Linked DNA regions of Homo sapiens: region 2 is linked to region 1. The links come from fine-mapping of genetic effects on gene expression. Tissue or cell type: non-classical monocytes. Region 1 holds a variant in brackets; the other region holds the start of a gene. All regions are shown on one strand. Distances are between the middles of the regions.

Region 1 (5,154 bases):
GCTCTTTGGGTTTTTTGACCTTTTGTTGTCTCGTTTTATTTACCTGTGTTCTGATCTTTATTATTTCCTTCTTTCTATTAATTTTGGATTTAGTTTGTTCTCATTTTCCCTGAGGTGCAATGTTAGATTGTGTATTTGAGATCATTCTTTTTTGTATATAGGTGTTTACTGCTATACATTGACCTCTTAGAACTGCTTTTTCTGTATCCCATAGGTTTTTGGTAAGCTGTGTTTTCATTTTCACTTGTCTCAAGAAATTTTGAATGTCTCTTTTAATTTCTTTGTTGACCAATTGGTTGTTCAGGAGCATGTTGTTTAATTTGTATGTATTTGCAGAGTTTCCAAAGTTTTTCTTGCTTCCTTAGTGATTTCTACTTTTATACTATTATAGTCAGAAAAAAATACTTGATATGATTTTAAAATTTGTTAAGACTTTTTTGTGACCTAATGTATAATCTATTCTGGAGACTGTTCCATGAGCAGTTGAGAAGAATGTATATTCTGCAGCTGTTGAATGGAATGTTCTGTAAGTGTCTATTAGGTCCATTTGGTCTAGAGTGTAGTTTAGATTTGATATTTCTTCGTTAATTTTCTGTCTGAATGATTTGTTCTTTGCTGTGAGTGAGGTGTTGAAATTTTTTACTATCATTGTATTTCAGTCCATTTCTCCCTTTGGTTTTATTAATATTTGCTTTATATATTTAGGTGCTCCAATGTTGGGTGCATACACATGAGTGTTAATCTCTTACTGAGTTGACTCCTTTGTCATTATGCAATGATCTTTTTTGTCTCTTTTTATAGTTTTCATTTAAAGTGTATCTTATCTGATATAACTATTTCTACTCTTTTCTGGTTTCCATTTTCATGGAATGTCTTCTTCCATTCTTTCATTTTCAGTCTCTGTATGTTATTACTAGTTAAATGATTCTTTGGAGGTAGCATATAGTTGGCTCTTTTTATGTTAGAAAGGAAAATGACTGGGCACTGCTTTTCATTAAAAAGAAAACCTTACCGAGGACTTATGTAGCCTCATTATCTGCCCAAGTAATTTCTTCTTAACTCCTGTATCAATACTTTGGTTTCAGTTTACCTTTCTAGCTTCATTCTTCATTCTACAAACAGGCGTGCTCACTTGCCTTCTTCCCCCAAACTAACTTGTGAACAATCTCTTTAAAATACTTTCTATTTTCTCATCTGAGTATAAGTCTTCCAATCCTTCGACACTGTAACTCATACATCATCTCCATCATGATGCCTTCCATCATCTTCTCTCTCTTTACGTCTACAGCATTTCAAGACCGTATTTTTTATGTTATTATGTTTTTATTTTTTGGCATGGTACATATTGGACTGTATGCCTTGTTTTTGGAATTTTTTCCTCCTTAGTTTATAAAGTAGTAGAATGCAGAGACTAAGTTTTATTCATATATATTTTTCTATATAGTAGGTCCATGATACATGTTGATTGAATGATGACTTCTAATAAAGAATACCATTTGTATGGTAGAAAAGCAAAGGGTAAATTAGAAAAGGATAAAATCTTAAATAAGTATGTTAGAGTTTTATCTTTGCTTTTCAAACAAATGCTTCTTTAGCCACTGGGTTGCTGTTTATTCTCTGATCCTCAAACTAGAGGTTTTCTTAGTACTTTTCTTTTGCAGGTGAGATGCATCAAAGTGCAGAAAATAAGATATGTTTGGAACTACTTAGAAGGACAGTTCCAGAAAATTGGGTAAGTTGTTTTAGCAAGTACAGCCAAAGAAGAAAAATGTTATCTCAAAAATATTATTGCTAAATATGTTCTTTTCATTATTATTATTTTAGTTCTTTGGAAGACTGGCTTAGTTCTGCCAAGATACATCAAAAATTTGGATCAGGCTTGACAAGAGAAGAACAGGAGATTAGGTACCATGCATATTATTGCCTATACTAGCTCAAAAGGATTATTATCAGTTAGCCAAATAGACAGCTAGTAAATAGTTATCTTAATGGATTAATATCAGAAAATATTATAATGCTCTATTTAGTATTATTAAATTAAATCTTTCACATACATTATATTACATCATCTTCACAGCAACCTTATGGGGCAGGTAGAACAGACATTATCACCATTTCCACACAACAAATGAGAAATCTGAGGCTCAGAGGGGTTTCATGGCCGGAACGAGGTCACACAGATGGGAATTAGTAGCGGAAGAACTGAGTCCCACACTCCTGACTGCAGATGTAATGCTCTTTCTACTCCATACAAAGTTTCTCAAGGTTATTATAATATAAAGTTGAGCCATTTTAGGTTAAAATCAAGAAATACATATTAGACCATGATAACGCAGTTAAATAATAACCATGGAGCAGCAGCAGAACACCATGCAAGATGTGTAGCTCCACATTTCCAAATCAGTTATTAGGCAGAGGAGAGAGGTTTAGGGAGGGCACTGGTATGTCAAGAGTCTGTGGGCTTTGAACAAATACCTTTTCCTCTCTGGACCTTTGTTTCCCAATCATAGACATGGGTAGAAGGACTCTTTAAAGGCCTTGCTGTTCTAAGTTTCTATGATTCACATGCTTCCCCCTTCCCCATTTCTAGTACTTTGAAGAGATGTACAGCCTAGCAGAATCAGCATCACCTGGGAGCTTGTTAGAAATGAAGGATCTCAGACCACTTTTCATCCCATTGAATCAGAATCTTCATTTTAACAATATCACCACATGATCTATATAAACATTAAAGTTTGAGAAGCACTGCTCTCATACATTTGACCAAGCTATTTAATCTGAGCATCGAGGTGGAAGACACAGAGAAAGCGGTTAGTGTTTTCAACAGTAACATAACTCATAAAATGTCTTTCCTCTGCATAATCAAAGAAACACATCTCTGGGTTTTAGAGACACTGAATCAAAAAGCTGAATAATTATGTGTGTA[G/C]AGCTATTTTTGAGATCACAGAGCCTTTCCACTCACATTAAAATACATTCTGAAGTTTTCCAGAACTTCTAAATAGGGGTAGGAAAGTAGAAACAGCATTTCCTTATCAATAAAAGTAATTTCTCTTAACTACCTCACTGTCTTACAGTAATAAAACCGGAATTGAGGAGAGACAGAGTTGGGAACATGCCAATCCTGAAAGTACTTGAATGAGACAATATTTAATATTAAATACCCAAAATACCATTTAGGAAAATATTTAGACCTTGGAAAGAGTATGCTTCTAGAAGCAATATGGTCATATTTATCGTTTTTGCAACTGGGAACCCTCACCTCCCATTATTTTGAGAAGGATCAGAATGGTATTTAACAAGGGAGACTTATGTTGGTCTCACAAGTGAGAAAGTGAACATGGAATAGACCTTTTTCTGAATAGGTGAGGAGTCAGTTTTAATTTTATTATTTGTGACAGAGTGATCTGTGATTTCTTTCTATAGGAGGTTAATATGTGGGCCTAATACTATCGATGTTGAAGTTACACCAATTTGGAAACTGCTCATCAAGGAGGTAATTTCTCCAGCATTTTCTCTTGGTGTTGGACAGAAAATAAGGAAGTTTGGCTCTAGTGAAATAATCAGGAGTGCTAATTGTTAATAAGTAACTTCACATAGAGTATATTTTGAAAGTATGCCAAGCATATTATCCTCATATCTCTTGCTTACTCTTTTTCTTCAAGTGGTTCTTTTGCACATTGCCTTATGCAATATAGGGTGTGAAACTCATTGTACTTATTTACCATTTAATGGCTGGATGAATATAATGTTTCTTTTCTTTTTTAATACTATGCTGCTTAACTTGTTTTAACTTCATGAAACTCAATTTTTTTTAAGCTAATCCTTTTGTTAGGTAACAGATACAATTTCCTTGGTGCCTAAAATTGTAGGAAGAAAAAAACCATTTATTCAGCCTTCTCAGTACTGCTGATCTCAAGGTATAAGATGAAATTTTCCTTTTGGACCCCATCACTGAGCTCATCATTGTTTCACTTTACAGCGATTATTATCAAACCGTAGCCCTCTAGCTGTCCTCTGGCTTCCCTGTGCTCTCTCTCGACTCCTCCTTGCCTTAAAACAAGCTTACTAAACTTCAGGTACTTTCAAAATATTTCCAACAAGCCGTCAAGCATGAAAGAAAGTAAAACAAACCAATAGGGAATGTTTCTGTGTGCTGCCTTTCTAACCAGAAGAAAGGTTTGCCATTCCTGTTTTAGAGAGAGGGAAACCAGCTAGGGGGAATTTAAGTAAAGGCACAGCATGTTTTTGACCAAAGCAGAATTAAAGCTGTTGAAGTTCACAGCTACTCTCTCGCACAGTGTTCTAGATGCTCTATTACAGCTTACTGCTTTCAGCACAGCTCTCTACTTATGAGAACATGCAGTCTTCAACTCACCCATTAATCAAGTTCCTTAATGACTTCAAATATGGCAGGTGTTATATCATAGAGAAGAAGAGACTAGAAAGTATTTTAACTTTATAAACCTGAACTAATACTTCACCTTTCTGAAGGCCAGTAAATGTAGACAGGAGGTGACAACATCTACTCCTTAAATAACTATTGTGATGGCCGACATGTCAATACATGAGACACTACTTTGTAAATTATAAAGTGAGGCAGTGATTAAAAGTAAGTGCTCTGGGGTCAGATTGCCTGTGTTTAAGTCTTGGGTCTGTGGCAATCATAGTCGCATGACTTTGGACGTATTTCTCAAGCTCTAAGTTTCAGTTTCTTTATCATTACAAAGGAGATAAGTAACAACTTCTGGTTAATAAGGTAACTGTGGGAATTCAATGAGAAAATTCAAGTAAAGTTGCTTAGAGCGGTGTCTGGCACGTGTCAATTGCCGAATAAATATAATAAGAATATTGTGTGGGATGATGTATGTCATGAAGATGATTATGAAAACAAGTAAATGAAGAGCAGAGTGAAGCCTAAAACTCTCCCTTGTCTTCCTGTTTTTATGTCTGCCAACAGGTTCTAAATCCATTTTATATATTTCAACTCTTCAGTGTCTGTTTGTGGTTTAGTGAAGACTATAAGGAATATGCTTTTGCCATCATAATCATGTCCATAATTTCCATATCTTTGACAGTATATGATCTCAGAGAGGTGAGTTTTTCTATTAATTCTATGGTTTCATAAAGGGAAGGATAATGACTTTATTAAAAATT
Region 2 (5,154 bases), 63 kb before region 1:
ATAAATGCAAACCTCTTTGCAGAGCACTTTGGATGTGCCAAATAAATGTGTAGAAGAGGTATTAGTCCAGTAACTAGGATCACGGATTGGGAGAGCTGCATTGCCTAGGTCCGAATACTCATTCTGTCACTTACTAATGGTTTGAATGTAGGCAAATTACTTAATGTCTGCACCTGTGTTTCCTTGTCTGTCAAATAAGAATGACCAGAATAGTATCAACCACAGAGGCTTTTGTCAGGATTGTGTGCAACAGTGAGTGTAAACTGTTTAGAATTGTGCCTCATATGTGGAAGTGTTCTGTAAATGTTCTCTTTGCTTTCCCACACAACCTAGCCCTGTTTCTGGTTATGGTTATGTTTGTAGACCAAAATCACTAAATGAGGGTGAGTGCTGTCCATAAGCAGTGTTGCCATCGATAAAATCTAGATGTTTTACCAATAGAACTCCCAAGGAACCTGAGGAAACTCTCTCACTACTGGAGTCCTCAGCTCTATTGAACCAGGTTTGTGGAAAATAATTTTCCATGGACATCTGATTTTTATAAAAGCTTTTAATGTTCTTAAGGACTTACATATTTTCCTGTTCAAGTTTAGCTTAAATATTGTAGCAGCATGACCTGATTTATTTGATGGGGTAAGTTTGTGTACAGTTTCTCCTCTAGCTGTTAATCAGTTACACACTCATCTCAATCCCACAACGGTGCAAGAGTTGCCAAGTGCATTCAGGAACCCAGCCAAAAGGAAACTGCAAATATTGCCAGTGATAAACAGGAGAATGAATTACTTCTTTCTCACCTGCCCAGGAGCACTGATATAGTTTCACCACGTCACATACTAACACTCCTCAACCTCCATCAGTTGAGATGAAATTTGGAATATGCTTGTTTTATATTTTTTTCTGTACTAAATATATAATTACTGCCTAGTAAGGCTGTTAAATGTTCAGTTAGGTTTTTTTGAGGTATAATTTTTTATTGAGGTATGATTTTTAAATTTGTTATATCTCTTCATTGAGATATAATTCACATTTCATAAAATTCACCCTTTTAAAGTATAGAGTTCAGTGAGGTTTAGTATGTTCACAAATTTTTGAAGCCATCAGTAGTTCTAGAACATTTTTATTACCCCCCCCATAAACCCTTTACTCCTTATATTTTGACCTTGTGATAAAATGTTAATTTTATTTTCATTTATTTGGTTAAATTGTGCTAGCAAATTTTTGAAACCAAGAGAACTACATATATATATACACACACACACACACATACACACACACGTACATATATATTTTGTAATTACTATTACAATGGGTTTACTTAGCTTACTTTTTATGTTTATCCTATACTTCACTATTTGCTCAAGGTTTTACACATACAACATATACACACACACACATGCACACATTGATCTTGGTCACATTAGGGTTATTTGGGTCAGGTTGGAGATATCATTGCCAATGTAGCTTGAGGGACAGACAGTGGACATGGTGAAGGTAAAAATAACTATCTTTTGTGGAACACCTATTATTTCCCAGGCACTCTTTCTTAAAAGTCTGTTTTAGGACGTAGGTTCTATTATCATCATCTTTATGTTACATGTGAGGAAATAGAGGAGAATGGAGTTTGTATAACTTGTTATATCCCAAGGTAGCACAACGACCACCTAGTACAGTCCAAATTTGAACTCAGGCCTTCCAAATTTAGTGTATATGCCCTTAGCCACTATGTCCTAACACCTACTGTTCAAATGCACATTTAGTTTAATAATCCTAACAGCACTTGATCAGTGCTGTACAATGTACTTTCACAATGATCTCATTCCATTCTCTCAAAAGTCCTGTCGGGCGGTACCAGATGAGAAGAGCCGGTTCCTATAGTTAAATGATCACACAGCAAGGCCAGTGCAGACAAGCAGCTGGAATACAGGTATTTTGCCAGAGCTAGGGTAGGGGTGTGTTTCTCTACACCACATTGGGACTTCTGACAGTTTTCTTAGACTTCTGTTCCATCTCTTATAATAACAATCCACTTTCTATCATATTTGTTTGGATGTTTGAATCCTTACATCAACACGAGGGTAGCAAATATGACTTAACTTTTTTAGGTAGTCCCTGTGCTCAGGCACTGTTTATTGAATAAATGTGTAAACAAATTAAAAAAGAGTCTGGCCATATAGTCATTTGAATATTTTATTTCTAGACTTCCTTAAGTGTTGAACCATCAATATTTTAGTGAAAGGAGACTACATAGACTAGTTTGATGATACCTTTGTTCTTTTTCTACATGTGTTTCAAAAAAGTAAACTTAATTTCACATACACTTTAAATAGAATTTTTTTTGCATATACAAGGAAATGTGATTACAAATACCTTTTGAAGAGGATTAGTGATAATCTGTACCTTTTGTAAGCAAAATGAATGAGAGTACTATTAGAAACCTGTGGATTGAAGCTTTCATTCATCAAAGAAAATCTGCAGCTCTGTGCGCTTCCGCTCAACCCAATTCCTTAGGTCCTCTGAATAAAGCAGTGACCTGGGAGTTCTTGCACCCGCTCCTCACTCCTGAGAAGGGTCCTGCCAACTCTGTATTGTCCTGTTGGATTTGCAGTCAGAAGTCTGAGGCTGGCAGGCACTGGGCAGGCAATGAGTTCTTTCCCTGTAAGTTGGGCACAAAAAGATCGGCATGGGAGCAGCCTCCTTTGAGACAGCTGCTCTGAGAGAATGCAATAAGCAGGGAGCAGCCAGCAATTCCTCCTAGCAGAGGGCGACTCGTGGGAGGAGTTCAGTTTGCCAAGTATTGTCATTTGTTGAGAGAAGGTGTGTGCTCAAGGAGGAGTTTTAACCTGGAGGATCATTAACTCTTTTAGTCAGCTGAGGAGCTGCGGTGGCTCGGCGAGTTGGAGTTCATCCTGGAAGCGTCTGCACGACAAGGTCAGGGAGGAGGTGTGGAATAACTTTTTCATGGGACACTTTGAGAAGGGCCAGCACGCTCTGCTCAATGAAGGAGAAGAGAATGAGATGGTAAGATTCTAGCCACATTCCCTTCTTCCCATCCCACTTCTCAGCCTGCGAGACACACACACACACACACACACACACACACACACGCACGCATCACACACACACAGACTTTTCTAAAATTTCACTCTGGTATTACACGAGAAAAGGTCATGTTTGAGAAATCTCTCTATCCTGTAAATATAACCTCTGACAGCAGAAATTTGCTAGAATGAAAATATTGTATTCATCTTGTCAAGAATGTTTTCTTTTTAAAGAAAACAGAGAGGGAGAGAAGCACCATGCACTTTATGATTCTTGTTTGAGCCTCATTGGTATAGCCAGTTCTGTTCAAAACACCTAACAATTTTAGGAAATCCCTAATGTGAGGAGCAGTGTATTCCCTGATAGGAAGAAGCAGAAGTTCAGCAGTGAAGCAGAAGTGCAGCTGGGTCTTTGACCTTCTCTTCTCAAATGTCTTGTTCACCGAGTCTGTTGGACAGGGAAGACATGCAATATTAACAATTATCAGCCTACACACATTTCTGTTTTCTTCTAGAATTTTACTTTTGTGGCTTCCTCATTATAGAGATTGGTTACAGAAAACTTTCGGTAGTTCAGTATCTCTTTGATTTTAGATGTGCTTCTATCTTGAGAACTATAGGAAAATCAAAGATGACTTTCATGCTCAGGATGAATTTAAAACTGTATTTCTCAATTACAATATAATCAAGAGAGAGTTAGAAATATGTACTTCTGTTTAATAAGATCTTTCTGCTAATTGTGTAAGCATAGTCTTTTATGCCAGTAATGATGTAATTAAAATGTTAAAATGTGACGCTCTCATTCCATAATAGCATTTAATCTTCCTGGAATTAATATGTAAATAACAAACCTGAAAGATATTTACTTAAAATGTTTTCTTGGTTAATTGCTTTAGCCCTGACTATTACATTCTTTGTTCCTAAACTGGTCTTTCAAGTCTAATCTGCTTACCTGTTCCTATAGCAACAACATTTTTTGGACTTTCAAGAGTAGATCCCTTCTGCTATCAAAGCTGAAAAAATTATAAAGAAGTAAAATGTACATTAATTCAGGTGCCTTTCTTAACCATATCCTTTACTTCATTCAGATTTGACTGCCAAATGAATTGCCTTCAGCCCCTCCACAAATGTCACCAGAAATGGCTTGCTAGCCCACATTGGATATCATCTTTGTTTCTTTAAAGAGTTTTCTTTAGGAAGTGAATATCTCATTACTCTCGATATTAAGTTGAAAAGTTTATCTTCATCTTGAATACTCTTCACCAGAAGGCAGGGGCTCCTTCCTCTGAAACATTTTTTTTCTCTCTCATTTAGAAATACACTCACTCTTTTCCAGTAAACCCCTTTCTGCTCTCAGACAATTTGTCTTTCAAGTCTCAATAAGAATCATTTATTTTCCAGAAGACATTCATGGTTGTAGGGAAACTGTTACCTCTTCCCTAGCATACATATTCCACCAAAGCAATTTAGTTAACAGTTCATCTTCATAATGGCACCATCAGATGCATGGAGAACTCCACGTAGTTTTGTATGCAGCTGAAAGCCCAGTTAGGAGAGGCCCTTTAATATGGAAAGGGACACTGTGTTTTCTGGTAGGCAGCCATTTGGCCAGTAGTCTCAGCAGAGGTGCAGCAATTAGTATGCACTCCTGAGCTCTCCATCCTCTTCTGCCTACAGAAACCTGGCCACCTGCCTGTTGCTGTGTCTGACACTGTGTTCCTTTTTAACTCACTCCTCCATCCCTTGCCCAGAGCAGTAAACTTTAAAAATTATCAAGCTATATATATAGTCTACATATTTTGTAGTGATTTTTAGTATACACAGCATTTTCTTGGCCACTAGCTAATTTAGTTTTCCTCACAACCCTATGAGGTAGATGCTGTGATTCTAACTTTAAAGATGAGGAAATTGATGCACACAGGCTTTCCCTAAGGTTGCATCAACCAGTAAGTCCAGGAGCTGAGGCACCGCACAGGTTAGTTTAAGTTGACAGCTCTTTTGTCTCTGGACCTGAACATAGCCCACTGATACCTTTTCCAGTTCTTCCGGAGAACATTCCACTCTTAACAGAACACATTCCCTTCCTTCATAAAACAAAGCTAAGGAGAACATCAAC

Which allele goes with the higher level. Positions count from the first base shown, and alleles are read on the strand shown. Sizes are in standard deviations (SD) of each study's normalised expression.
As copies of C replace G in region 1, the expression in non-classical monocytes of the gene that starts at base 2,863 in region 2 goes up (large effect, 1.4 SD a copy in Schmiedel 2018).

What was found. PIP is the estimated chance that this variant, and not a neighbour inherited with it, causes the effect.
Region 2: ATP13A4 starts here. The variant in region 1 is fine-mapped to the expression of ATP13A4 in non-classical monocytes (Schmiedel 2018, PIP 0.95).

What each region holds. Positions count from the first base shown.
Region 1 is chr3:193,489,668-193,494,821 of GRCh38, reverse strand. ATP13A4 (ATPase 13A4) reads left to right here. Exons shown (of 30, transcript NM_032279.4): 4 at 1,662-1,732; 5 at 1,825-1,905; 6 at 3,424-3,493; 7 at 4,958-5,092. Among named protein-coding and RNA genes, the nearest start is that of ATP13A4-AS1, 61 kb to the left of the region's middle. The variant G/C (reference allele first, on the strand shown) is at 2,927.
Region 2 is chr3:193,552,604-193,557,757 of GRCh38, reverse strand. It overlaps ATP13A4 (ATPase 13A4), which reads left to right and starts at 2,863. Exons shown (of 30, transcript NM_032279.4): 1 at 2,863-3,018. The coding sequence starts at 2,959. It overlaps ATP13A4-AS1 (ATP13A4 antisense RNA 1), which reads right to left and starts at 4,545. Exons shown (of 2, transcript NR_121666.1): 1 at 4,471-4,545; 2 at 2,174-2,988.